Regions from separate parts of the Homo sapiens genome. Here region 1 is linked to region 2. Evidence: fine-mapped QTL for protein levels in blood plasma. Region 2 holds a variant in brackets. A gene starts in the other region. All regions are shown on their forward strands.

Region 1 (5,509 bases), not on the chromosome of region 2:
GTTCAAGTTGGAGGATCAGGACCATGACCAGGGCTTAATCTGGCTCTATGCTCTGTTCTGAGCTCCAATAAAGAAGCTTCTGGAGGCATAGGAGCCCAGAGCAAGTCAGTCTGCAAGAAATGAGAGCCCCCAGGCAAGCTTAGCAGGGTCTGGTGGCTGCAGGAAGTTTCCCCTGGACTGCTGAGGCCGGGTGTCCTAGAGCCTCTAACCTACATGGCTCTGCTGCTTGAGATCCCCTCGCACCAGAATAAAAATAGCCACTCACTTCAGAGCAGCTGACAGCGGGTGCTGGGCTGCCTAGGAGGAGGGGGAGCCGAAGAGAAGGAGGAGAGAGGCCTGAGCTCAGCCCCAGCTGTGTGACCTTGGGAAAGTCACTCCTCCTCCTCCAGCCCATTTCCTGAGTGGCAGAATGGGGAGTGAGGATGACATCTGCCTCAGAGGGTGAGAATGAAGTGCTGGGGACATAACATGTGAAGCTTGTTACCAACAAGAAACCCTGGAGTGAAGCCTTGGGAGAAGAAATGCTCTTTTGTGCCCTGTATACTTCCTCCTCAGGGAAGCCCTCCCAGATAACCCCTTCTTTCACATTCCCACAATATCCTGTATCACCCTCTACACCTTTGCAGATGGTAGCCATAGCATGACCTCCCTCATGGCGGGCCTGGGTCAGGGTGACCAGGGAGAGAAAGGAAGGAGGACAGACCCTCGGTACCGTTGCCATCCTCAGGTGCCCCTGGAAAGTGAACCGAGGAAGAGGAGGAGGAAAAAGACAGGAAAGACTTCTCTCCCTTCCCTGCTCATGTTTACTCCGAACCAAAGGGCAGGAGGGTACATGTCCAAATTTCTCATCCTTTCACAGCCAGAACCTTCCTTCCCCATCCATGCTTTGTACCTGCTGTTCTCTCTGCTTTCCAGCCAGGGCGTTTCTCTTCTTCGATTTGGCAGCACGGACTCTCCTTCAAAGAAGGGGTTCAACAGTCAGCTCCTCTGTCGGGAAGAATTATCCACTGCCTCTCCAGGAGCTCCATGCTCTGTCCTCTCTCTACTGGCTGTGTAATCCCTGGGCCTCGGTTTCTTCCTCTGTCCAATGGGGGCCTCATTACCAACCTCACAGGGTTACTATGGAGAGTAACTGGGATACTCCATCTATCACTGGCATCCTGCCTTCCTATCCCTGACCCACACAGCCTGAAGGACAGCACTGAGTTTCCAGGAGTGGGCTGGATGAGCCCTGGACCCTGCCTCAGTACGCCCACCCCCCTCCCCCACCAAGAGTGAGGGCAAGGAGGGAGCCAGAAAGGGCCTCCAGAGACAGCCGTCTCCAGGGGGGCGGTTCTCCCTGACAGCTGCCCCCAGCCTGCCGCCCTGAGCCCCAGAGCCTGTTATCAACCTCCTTAGTCATCACACCAGGAGCTCAAATATAGCTCCAACTCACTCCCTTTTCAGCTGGGGTCCGCCCCCTACCCCCTTCTCCTGACAAGACCAGGCTTGGGTCTCAGAGCCCCTTCCTTGTCCTCCCAGGAGAGTAACCACCCTCAGCCTGTTTCAGCATCCACCACATGGGCAGGCTGAAGTCAATGGTGGTGATGATGATGATGATAAATACAGAGCAGCCACCTTTATGGAGAGCTTGCTGTGCCAGGCAGGCTCTATGCTAAACATTTCATATATATTATCCTGTTGAATCTTCACCAGCAAACTTAGGAGGTGTCTGCTGTTTTAATCTCCCTTACACAAATTGGGAATCAGAGTGACCTCCTCAAGTAAGTCAGTGGCAGGGCCAGAAACAAAGTCCCCTGCAGGGTCTGAGCTCAGGGAGCGGGTGGTGGGAAATCCTGGGTTGCCCTCCTGAGGCAGAGGAGCCCTCTGCAGACACATTTGCATGACATTTGCCTGGCTTCCAAAGGGCACTGATGCCCCTGTCCCAGCCCTAGATGGCTGAGCCTTAGGACTGGTCCCAGAGGCCTGGATCTGCCCATCATTCCCTCTAGGATTGCATGAAAAGCTGGGTAGTCTTGGGGGCTCCCATTTTCTTTTTCTTTTTTCTTTTCTTTCTTTCTTTTTTTTTTTTTTTTTGAGACAGGGCCTCTCTCTGTCACCCAGGCTGGAGTGCAGTGGTACGATCTTGGCTCATTGCAACCTCCACCTCCACCTCCCAGGTTCAAACAATTCTCCTGTCTCAGCCTCCCAAGTCGCTGAGACTACAGGCATGTACCACCACACCCGGCTCATTTTTATATTTTTAGTGGAGATGGGGTTTCGCCATGTTGACCAGGCTGGTCTCGAACTCCTGACCTCAGGTGATCTGCCCACCTCAGCCTCCCAAAGTGCTGGGATTACCCGCACTTTGCCAGTACTCCCCCAGCCCGGGGGCTCCCATTTTCTTATTTGTAAAACAGGAGACAGAGGATAAGACAGGATGAGTTCGAATCTTCCTTTTTCTGGTAACCTGAGCATCACCACCAGGTCTACTCTCACATCCTCCCTGACTGTCACCTCCAACTCCAACACTACCTCTTTCATTGACACAACACCATCATCAGTATTGGTATCATCATCACCTCTACCTTTGCCATCACCATCACCTCCACCACCTTCACCACAACCACTGCTAGCCCCCTACTTCCATCATCACAGTTACATACATCATCACATCCATCACCACAGTCGCCTTCCCCGTCACCACTGTCACCATCTCCACTATCGCTGTCCAAAGACCTTTCTACCCCAACACTCTAATATGGCCTGAGTCTCTGCCCCTGCAAATTCCAGCAGAGATGCTGGCCTGAGAATACAGACTAGACCTACTGACAGTCAAGCAGAGGTAGGAAGTGCCTTCAGGAGAGGAAAGTGAGGCATCTGCCTTCATGTAGGAGACTGCACAGGCCCATGCAGATGCTCCATGTTGGTTAACAGGGAGCTCTGCACACACAACTCTGAACACTTTCTGCCTAAAGTGGGTGGGATCACTCCTCTCTAAGCCATGAGAAACAGATCCCACAGCCATCCCAGCCCAATCTGACCCTCATCACCCATTCACTCTTCTAATTCATTTATTCATTCAACAAACACTCCCGTAGGCCTGTTGGGGACCATGTCCTGGGCTGGGTCCTGGCTGTAGCAATTCTCAGGCCTGTTTGTAACTCTCTTGTCAGTCTGTTACCCCACTGCTGGGCCCTTCTCCACCCAAGTTCCCTTCCCCCAGATAGCTCGAAGGGCTTGTGCTCATCCTAGGTCACTAAGTTTTCTCACTGAAACACAGGAGACCTTCTCAGTTCACCAGGTGACCTTGAGCAAGTTCCCCTCCCAAACCACACCCAGTGAATACTGGAGAGAAGAAAGCTGACAGAAGCCGGGCTGGGTTAGGCCTGGCTGTGGGGACATCTGAGGGCAGCTAGGTGTCTGCAGAAGAGGAGGGGCTGGTGCTGAGGCCTGAGATGGGAAAAGACTGCAGTGGCTGGAGCCTGAGTGTCTGGTTCTGGGTTGGGAAGAATAGAGCCTGGGACTGGCAGTAGGAGTGGAGAGGGTGGCACCAAGACCTGAAAATGGGGCAAGGGTGGGGGCCGGGGCAAGCTCTGAGCTGGCAGGGAGCCAGGAAGGTCACAGGATCAGGGCAAGAACTCAGTTGTCTCTGAGGCCCTGGAGAGGGTGCAGACCTCTGAACCACCTGTCCTACCTTAAGGCAGGTGTGTTAATGCCCCTCCCTGGAGCAAAGGGCTGACCAGGCCTACGGCAGAAAGGTGAAGGTAGACAGACAGCCTCCTTCCTGCTGCCAGTTGGGACCTGGGCCAGGCAGATGGGTACACTCTCCCCTCCCCACTCCATGGCTGTTCCAGCCTCAGCAGCCAGTTTGAAGGATTCCCAGGGGGTAGCCACCTTGCTTCGGCCTCTTCCAGGCTGGGAAGTGGGAGCCTGTGCCTTTAAATTCTCAGCAGGTTGAAATGGCTGATGACATCACTGGTTCCCGGGAGCGGTAGAGCTGGAGCCGGAGCCAAGGGAGTCCAGGCTGCCGGGGGCTGCAGACATGGAGGGCCAGAGCAGCAGGGGCAGCAGGAGGCCAGGGACCCGGGCTGGCCTGGGTTCCCTGCCCATGCCCCAGGGTGTTGCCCAAACTGGGGCACCCTCCAAGGTAAGACCCCTGAGACCCAGTGCCCCCCGCTTTCCTGATCCCTGGTTCCACACACCCCCCCCACATACACTGCAGGCTCCCTGGTGCTCCTGACTGAGGGGCTGGTACTTTCCTCTGCTCAGCGAGCAGGGGCTAGGTGAAGAGAGCACCCTGGGGGCTGAGGGGCAGTGACAGGATGCCCGGAGACAGATGAAGTTAGCCATCTCCAGGAGCCCTTGGGAGAGTCCTGGACTGGGTATCAGAGGACCCAGCTGTGCTCCACCTTTGCTGTGTGACCTTGGCCAAGTTGCTTTTCCTCTCTGAGCCAATGCAAAATGAGGGGGCTTGTCGCTGAAGACTAAAACTGTGACATCTGGGATGGCTAAGTTGTTAGTACTGGAGGCGGTGTGATAGTTGGGGGGAAGCCGGCACACAGTGTGACACTTGGAGCCAAGGAGGGTGCCTAAAATGCCACCTCAAAGAACTGAGTTTGAGAAGGGAGGTGGAGATGGAGTTTTAGGTACTCTGAACTGAGAAGGATACGGGACAGAAACAGAAGTGCGTCTCCAGAGGCAGGGCCTCCCTGCGCCCTGTTACCCTACCTAGGGCCATCCTGGGGCAAGTATAGACATTCTTCTGCCCTCCTTGGTGAAGGACACTTTATCCTGTCTTCTGGAGACAGGGGACATCAGAGAGAATAGATGGGGAAGGAGGATAGGTCTCTACAGGACTCCGTGACTCCCCACCCCTCCCACCTGCCGGACATAAATGGGATACCTGCTTGCCTGTCCTTTCAGGTAGGGGAGAAAGTGGAGGATGTAAGAGGGCACAACCTGGGCACAGAGAGATGTGACACCAGGATCAACTTAGAATCCTGGACTTGCTCTGAATGCTAGATTCACACTTGGTGAGGATGGACTATTCAACGGGGCTAGATGGAATTCTAGCAAATGTTGGGCTCATAAATGCAGACAATGGGAGATGAAGATTCCCCAGAATATAATGTGGCCAGGAACCCTAGACCCCATCCCTTCATTTTACAGACAGAGAAACTGAGGCGCTGGGCAGAGAGGTACTTGCCTAAGGTCACACAGAGCTGGGCTTTGAATCTACACAGCCAGTCTCAGCTCCCAGCTCTTGCTCCTGAGTGGAGCTCTGGGAATGGGTAAGAGAACAGAGAGGGCTGTAACCAAGGGATTTGGATGTTTAGGGGGCGGTGGGGAACTGAGGGTTTCTGGGCATTATGAAGGAAGGGAGAGGTATTTAACAAGCTGCACCTGTAGGTCTGTATCTTGACAATAGAAAAAGAAAAGAAACAGGCTGTCCCCAGTGTGCCCAGACCTGGGATGTCAGGTCAGTAGCCGTGGCTGGGGGAGCTTCAGGGACTGCAGTGGGAGGGTT
Region 2 (5,000 bases):
TGTCAAAGGTGCTGTCCAGCTTCCCGGTAAGGGGTCCACTGATCTAAAGGGAATTGGGGGCTCACAAGTATAAGGAGCAGGGGGCAAGGTCCCCTTACAGTCCCTCCTCCCACCCCCACAGGTCTTGCTTATTCAGGAGAGGAAGGAGTCTCAGAGCATAATCTCATCTCTTGCTCCCTACCCACTCTCTGGGTGCTGGCCTCCCACCCTAGGGCTCAGGGTCACACCTCAGCCTGGCTCCCCTTGCTGCATAGATGCAGCCCTGTGCCAGGCCCGTGCCACACACACCATGCCCACCTAGTTCAGCCAAGACCCCCGGGACCCCCGACTCTGGGAACGGGAATTCAGGCAAGGCAGCCACTCCAACACAGATACGTTTATTGGCAAAACCTATTCCCAGGCATCAAGGGGAAGGGTGCTAGCAGAGTGAATAATTTTTGTTTTTCACTTTCCTTGGCCATGTTCAAGGAGCAAGGGGAGGGGGAGACAGGGACATCCCAGTCAAGATAAGGAGGATCCCAGCAGCTCCCCTCCGAGGTTGGGCTCTTCACCAACCAAGGCCTTTTCTTGCACTGTCTCCTTTAATCCTTATAACAACACTGCAAGGTAGGTACCATTATCATCCCCATTTTACAGACGAGGAAACTGAACTGTAGCATGGGCGAAGTGGTGAAAGGTGGGTGTCAGCTTTCAGGGACAGGAGAGCCTCCCATGGACTGAGCTAGCCTGGGAGGTACAAATAATGTTACTCTATGTTGGGCTGGAACCCCACCACACACACATGTTGAGTCTGTGGCCCCCAAGGCTGATGTTTCCTTCCGTTTTTTTTTTTTTTTTTTTTTTTTTTTTGAGACAGGGTCTCGCTCTGTTGCCCAGGCTGGAGTGCAGTGGTGCAATCTTGGCTCACTGCAACCTCCACCTCCTGGGTTCAGGTGATTCTCTTGCCTCAGCCTTCTAAGTAGCTGGGATTACAGGTGCCTGCCACGAGACACCCAGCTAATTTTTGTATTTTTAGTAGTAACGGGGTTTCACCATGTTGGCCAGGCTGGTCTCAAACTCCTGACCTCAAATGATCCGCCCAACTTGGCCTCCCAAAGTGCTGGGATTACAAACGTGAGCCACTGCGCCCAGCCACCTCCTCTCTTTTCTACCACTTCCTGATTCTGTTTCCTCCATCTCTCACCACTTTCACGTCTTTCAACTCTTTTTATCTTTTTGTTTTATAAAAAAATAAATTTGCCCATGTTCTTGGAGAGCCTGCTGTCTCCTACCCCAATTGGTCAGATCTGGGTTCTCCCCAAGATTCAGTTTAGATGGAGTTGAGGATAATGGCTCTCAAATGAGGGGCCTGAAGTTGTGTGTGAAGCCAAACTATGTTGAAAACTCTTAGAAAATACGCAATTAATAAATTACAAACCCCCTCACTCTCCCGCCCCTACCTTCCCACCCTCCCCCACTCCCTATCCAAATGTAGAATCAACTGTACCTTGCCCCCCACCCCCACCCCAGGGCAGGGCTTGTCTCAGTCCCCTCGGAGTCCACTGATTCCGGGGCCCTCAGTAAATGTTTGTGGAATGAATGAATGAGTGAACTAATGAGTGTTTGGAGGGAGGAACCAAACACTTAGGAGGCCTGAGTCCCAGGCCCAATCCCTGGATCATCCTTGCCTGTACCTTGTCCTCACCAGGACGCCTCTCTCTGGGCCCAGAGAAGAGGGTCTCAAGGTAGGGGCTGGGAGCAGAGTGGGGAAGGGAGGAGTCACAGGGGAAGGGAAAGTGGACGCATGACTGACAGAGGACAGAGCTCGGACCTTGAAATCAGAAGGCCTGGTTCAAATCCCAGCTGCACGGCTCAGTTCAAATCCCAGCTATGTGACCTTGGGTACGTTCAAAGACAAATGATGACTGCTATAGAACAGTCCCTGTGGAGTTTACAAAGCCCTATTTTACATGTATCTTTGGTCCTCAGTAACCATCCTGTAATGTGGGTATTATCATCAATATACCCATTTTACAGAAGAGGAAATATAGGCTGGAAAGGTCAAGGGACTTGCCCAAGGTCACACAGCAAGCACCCCACCCGCTCACCCACCTCCTGCCTTTGCTTCTACCCCTGCCTGTGCTGGGAAGAGGGAGGGCTCAGATCTAAGTCTTCCAGCACGGGATCCCCAGTGAAAGTGTGGCAACAGGAGGGACTGTGCAACAAACCCCCTAATGTGGGCCCCATCGGCCATCCCCAGCCAGAAAAGCCAGGCTACCCTTTGTGGAAGGTCTCCTGGACACGCCTTCCTTCCCCACCCACAGCCCTGGGGCCTCAGCTGCTGCTCCAGGAGGATCCTGGAGTCCATGAGGTGCCCATGAACTTCTGCTTTTCCTTGGAAGGTGGGGATGTGGAATGGTGGGGGAGGGTCTAGGGCCTGGGCCCGCCCCTCACACAGGCATGGCCACTTCGTCGTATTCATCCCGACCTTCCTCCTCATCAAAGGTTGCCTTGGCATCATCAGCATCCAGCTGGAGGGGAGGGACAGGAGAGAGACAGGGTGAGAGACCCTGGGGCCAGAAGAGCCCTCCCCGGGCACGAAAGGCACCTCTGGAGTTAGGAGAGGGTCTGGCTGTCTTGAACCTTGGACCAGTCCTGTTTTATCTCCCCAGCAGCTAGGACTGGCCTAAATGAGTCGTTGTCAAAGTGAGAGGCAACCCCGGGGATGTGGACCCTGGCAGGGGAGGGCCTGCAGAGGGTGAGCAGGGGACCTTTTCACCAAGGCGGCCCCACAGTGACCTGAGTCACCCTGTGGAAGAATCCTATTAGAGGAGTGACTCTGTCCCAAATGACTCGGAAGACGGCAGGACTTGCTGCTTAGGGGTCCAGCTCACTCACAGCACACCCTGTCTGCCTCTTGACGCTCTCCCCAGTCGTGCCATCATTTCCCCCTTTACAGGTGAGCAAAATGAAGACACAGAGAAACAAGGCCCCGTGCTCCAGATCATATGCTAGGACACAGCAGGCCAGAACCTGGACACCAGCCCTAGCCCCAGACTTTACCCATGACTCTGTCCTGCCTGCCCTAGTTCTGAGACGCGCCCCTCGCATGCTCCCAGCTCTTGTGCCCCAGGCCCAGGCAGCCACTCACACACTGAAGCTCCACGTTCCTGAAGATGAGCGGCAGCAGGACGCGCCGCAGCGGCACAGTGAGGATGAGGACGAAGGGCAGGGCCAGGGAGGCCGGCGTGGACTTCACCACCCACAGCACTGCCAGGCAGATGATCTGGATGCCCGTGAATAAGTGCATGCGCCAGGTCTTCACCTGCAGGCGGAGGCTGGGGTCAGTGCCTATCACACCCCAGCACCCTCTACCACCCCAGGCTGGGCAGCCAGAAAAGGGTCCTGTACCCGCTTGACGTAGGGCACATCTGGGTGATACTTGGGTGGCTTGAACAGAAGCAAGATGCGGTCAAAGAGCTGGATGCCGCTGAGCGACGTGACCCCCATGTAGAGGAAGATGCCAAACAGTACAGCCAGGGGGATGCGGGACAGGATGGGCTCCATGAGGATGGACAGGCCTGTGGGGGAGCCGCACACTCTCAGCCCAGGTTGCCCGAGGCCTGGC[A/C]CCAGTGGGGGGTCAGGCCCCTATCTGGGGCTGGGAATAAAACACAGGCACCATATGGAGCCATTTCTTTTTTCCTTTTCTTTTCTTTTTTTTTTTTTTTTTTTGTTTTTTTTTTTGAGACAGGATCTCGCTCTGTCACCCAAGCCAGAGTGCAGTAGTGTGATCTCGGCTCACAACAGACTTAACCTCCTGATCCCAAGTGATCCTCCCGCTTCAGTGTCCCTAGTTGCTGGAACTACAGGCACATACAACCACACCTGGATCATTTTTTTTTTTTTTAATTTTTAGTAGAGACAAGGTCTCACTATGTTGCCCAGGCTAGTCTTGAACTCCTGGGCTCAAGTGATTCTCCTGCCTTGGCCTCCCAAAGTGTTGAGATCCCACGCCTGGCCTGGAGCTATTCCTATGGGTCTTTTTTTTTTTTTTTTTTTTTTTTTTGAGGCGGAGTCTCACTCTGTTGCCCAGGCTGGAGTGCAGTGGTGCAATCTCAGCTCACTTCAACCTCCGCCTCCTGGGTTCAAGCAATTCTCCTGCCTCAGCCTCCCAAGTAGCTGGGATTATAGGCGTGCGACACCACGCCCAGCTGATTTTGTAATTTTAGTAGAGACGTGGTTTCACCATGTTGGACAGGGTGACCCACCTGCCTCAGTCTCCCAAAGTGCTGGGATTACAGGCGTGAGCCACAACCCCCGGCCTCTATCGGTCCTTTTTATAGGTATTACCCCAATTTTACAGATGAGGAAACAGGCTCAGAGAGGTAAACAACCTGCCTAAGGCCACACAGCTGGCAAGGAGTCAAAGCCCTGCCTGCCTGACTTAAGCCCACTCCCTTAACCTAATGAGGGTCACAGAGGTCAAACACACACACCTTTCTCCTCACCCCAGCCCAGAATGCCATCAACTGCCTCCTTTAAGAATTTTCCCTGACCTCTCCATCTGCAACCATGGCACTGCCCACACCGAACCCAGCTCGACTCTTGGCTGCTCCAGAACTGAAATCAACCCCAGTGACCCTTCTTTCTTCTCCCCCACATCCCTGGACTATGGCTAGAGCACCGCCCCTTGTATCAGTCATGGAGCAGCTGAGCTGGAAGAGAACTGGGGGACATCTGTTGAACCCTCCAACTGTGCAGACAGGGAAACTGAGACCCAGAGACAAGGAGGGATACTGGGTTAGCAGCAGGGCAGGGCTAGAACCCACAGTTCACTGGACTTCTGTTGGGTAAGTCAGAAGGTGGGGTCTGGTCTGGAGAAGGCCTCGGAGTGGAGCCCCCTTCCTCCCTGCTCAGACGCCCAGCCCAGTGCCTTGGCCTTTCCTCCAGGATCCCCTCGTGTGAGTAGGGGATGCTGGGGAGATGTGGGGAAGTGGTGCAGGATGGGGGAGGCTGGAGGA

Direction of the effects. Positions count from the first base shown, and alleles are read on the strand shown. Strength reflects both the effect of a copy and how common the allele is.
As copies of A replace C in region 2, the plasma level of the protein whose gene starts at base 3,976 in region 1 goes down (weak association).

The links. A credible set is the group of variants that fine-mapping cannot tell apart. PIP is the posterior inclusion probability: the model's chance that the variant is causal. Protein levels are from antibody-based Olink assays in UK Biobank. Linkage for the fine-mapping came from a reference panel and not from the study's own genotypes, which makes the PIPs less certain.
Region 1: it holds the start of INPP5J, and the variant in region 2 is the best candidate, but not a certain one, in a credible set for the plasma level of the INPP5J protein (UK Biobank, PIP 0.58).

Annotation. Positions count from the first base shown.
Region 1 is chr22:31,118,991-31,124,499 of GRCh38, forward strand. It overlaps INPP5J (inositol polyphosphate-5-phosphatase J), which reads left to right and starts at 3,976. Exons shown (of 13, transcript NM_001284285.2): 1 at 3,976-4,129. The coding sequence starts at 4,025. It overlaps LOC105372995 (a long non-coding RNA gene), which reads right to left and starts at 1,312. Exons shown (of 3, transcript XR_938163.3): 1 at 893-1,312.
Region 2 is chr17:44,248,029-44,253,028 of GRCh38, forward strand. SLC4A1 (solute carrier family 4 member 1 (Diego blood group)) reads right to left here. Exons shown (of 20, transcript NM_000342.4): 18 at 3,391-3,560; 19 at 3,131-3,304; 20 at 362-2,510. The coding sequence ends at 2,430. Among named protein-coding and RNA genes, the nearest start is that of SLC4A1, 18 kb to the right of the region's middle. The variant A/C (reference allele first, on the strand shown) is at 3,608.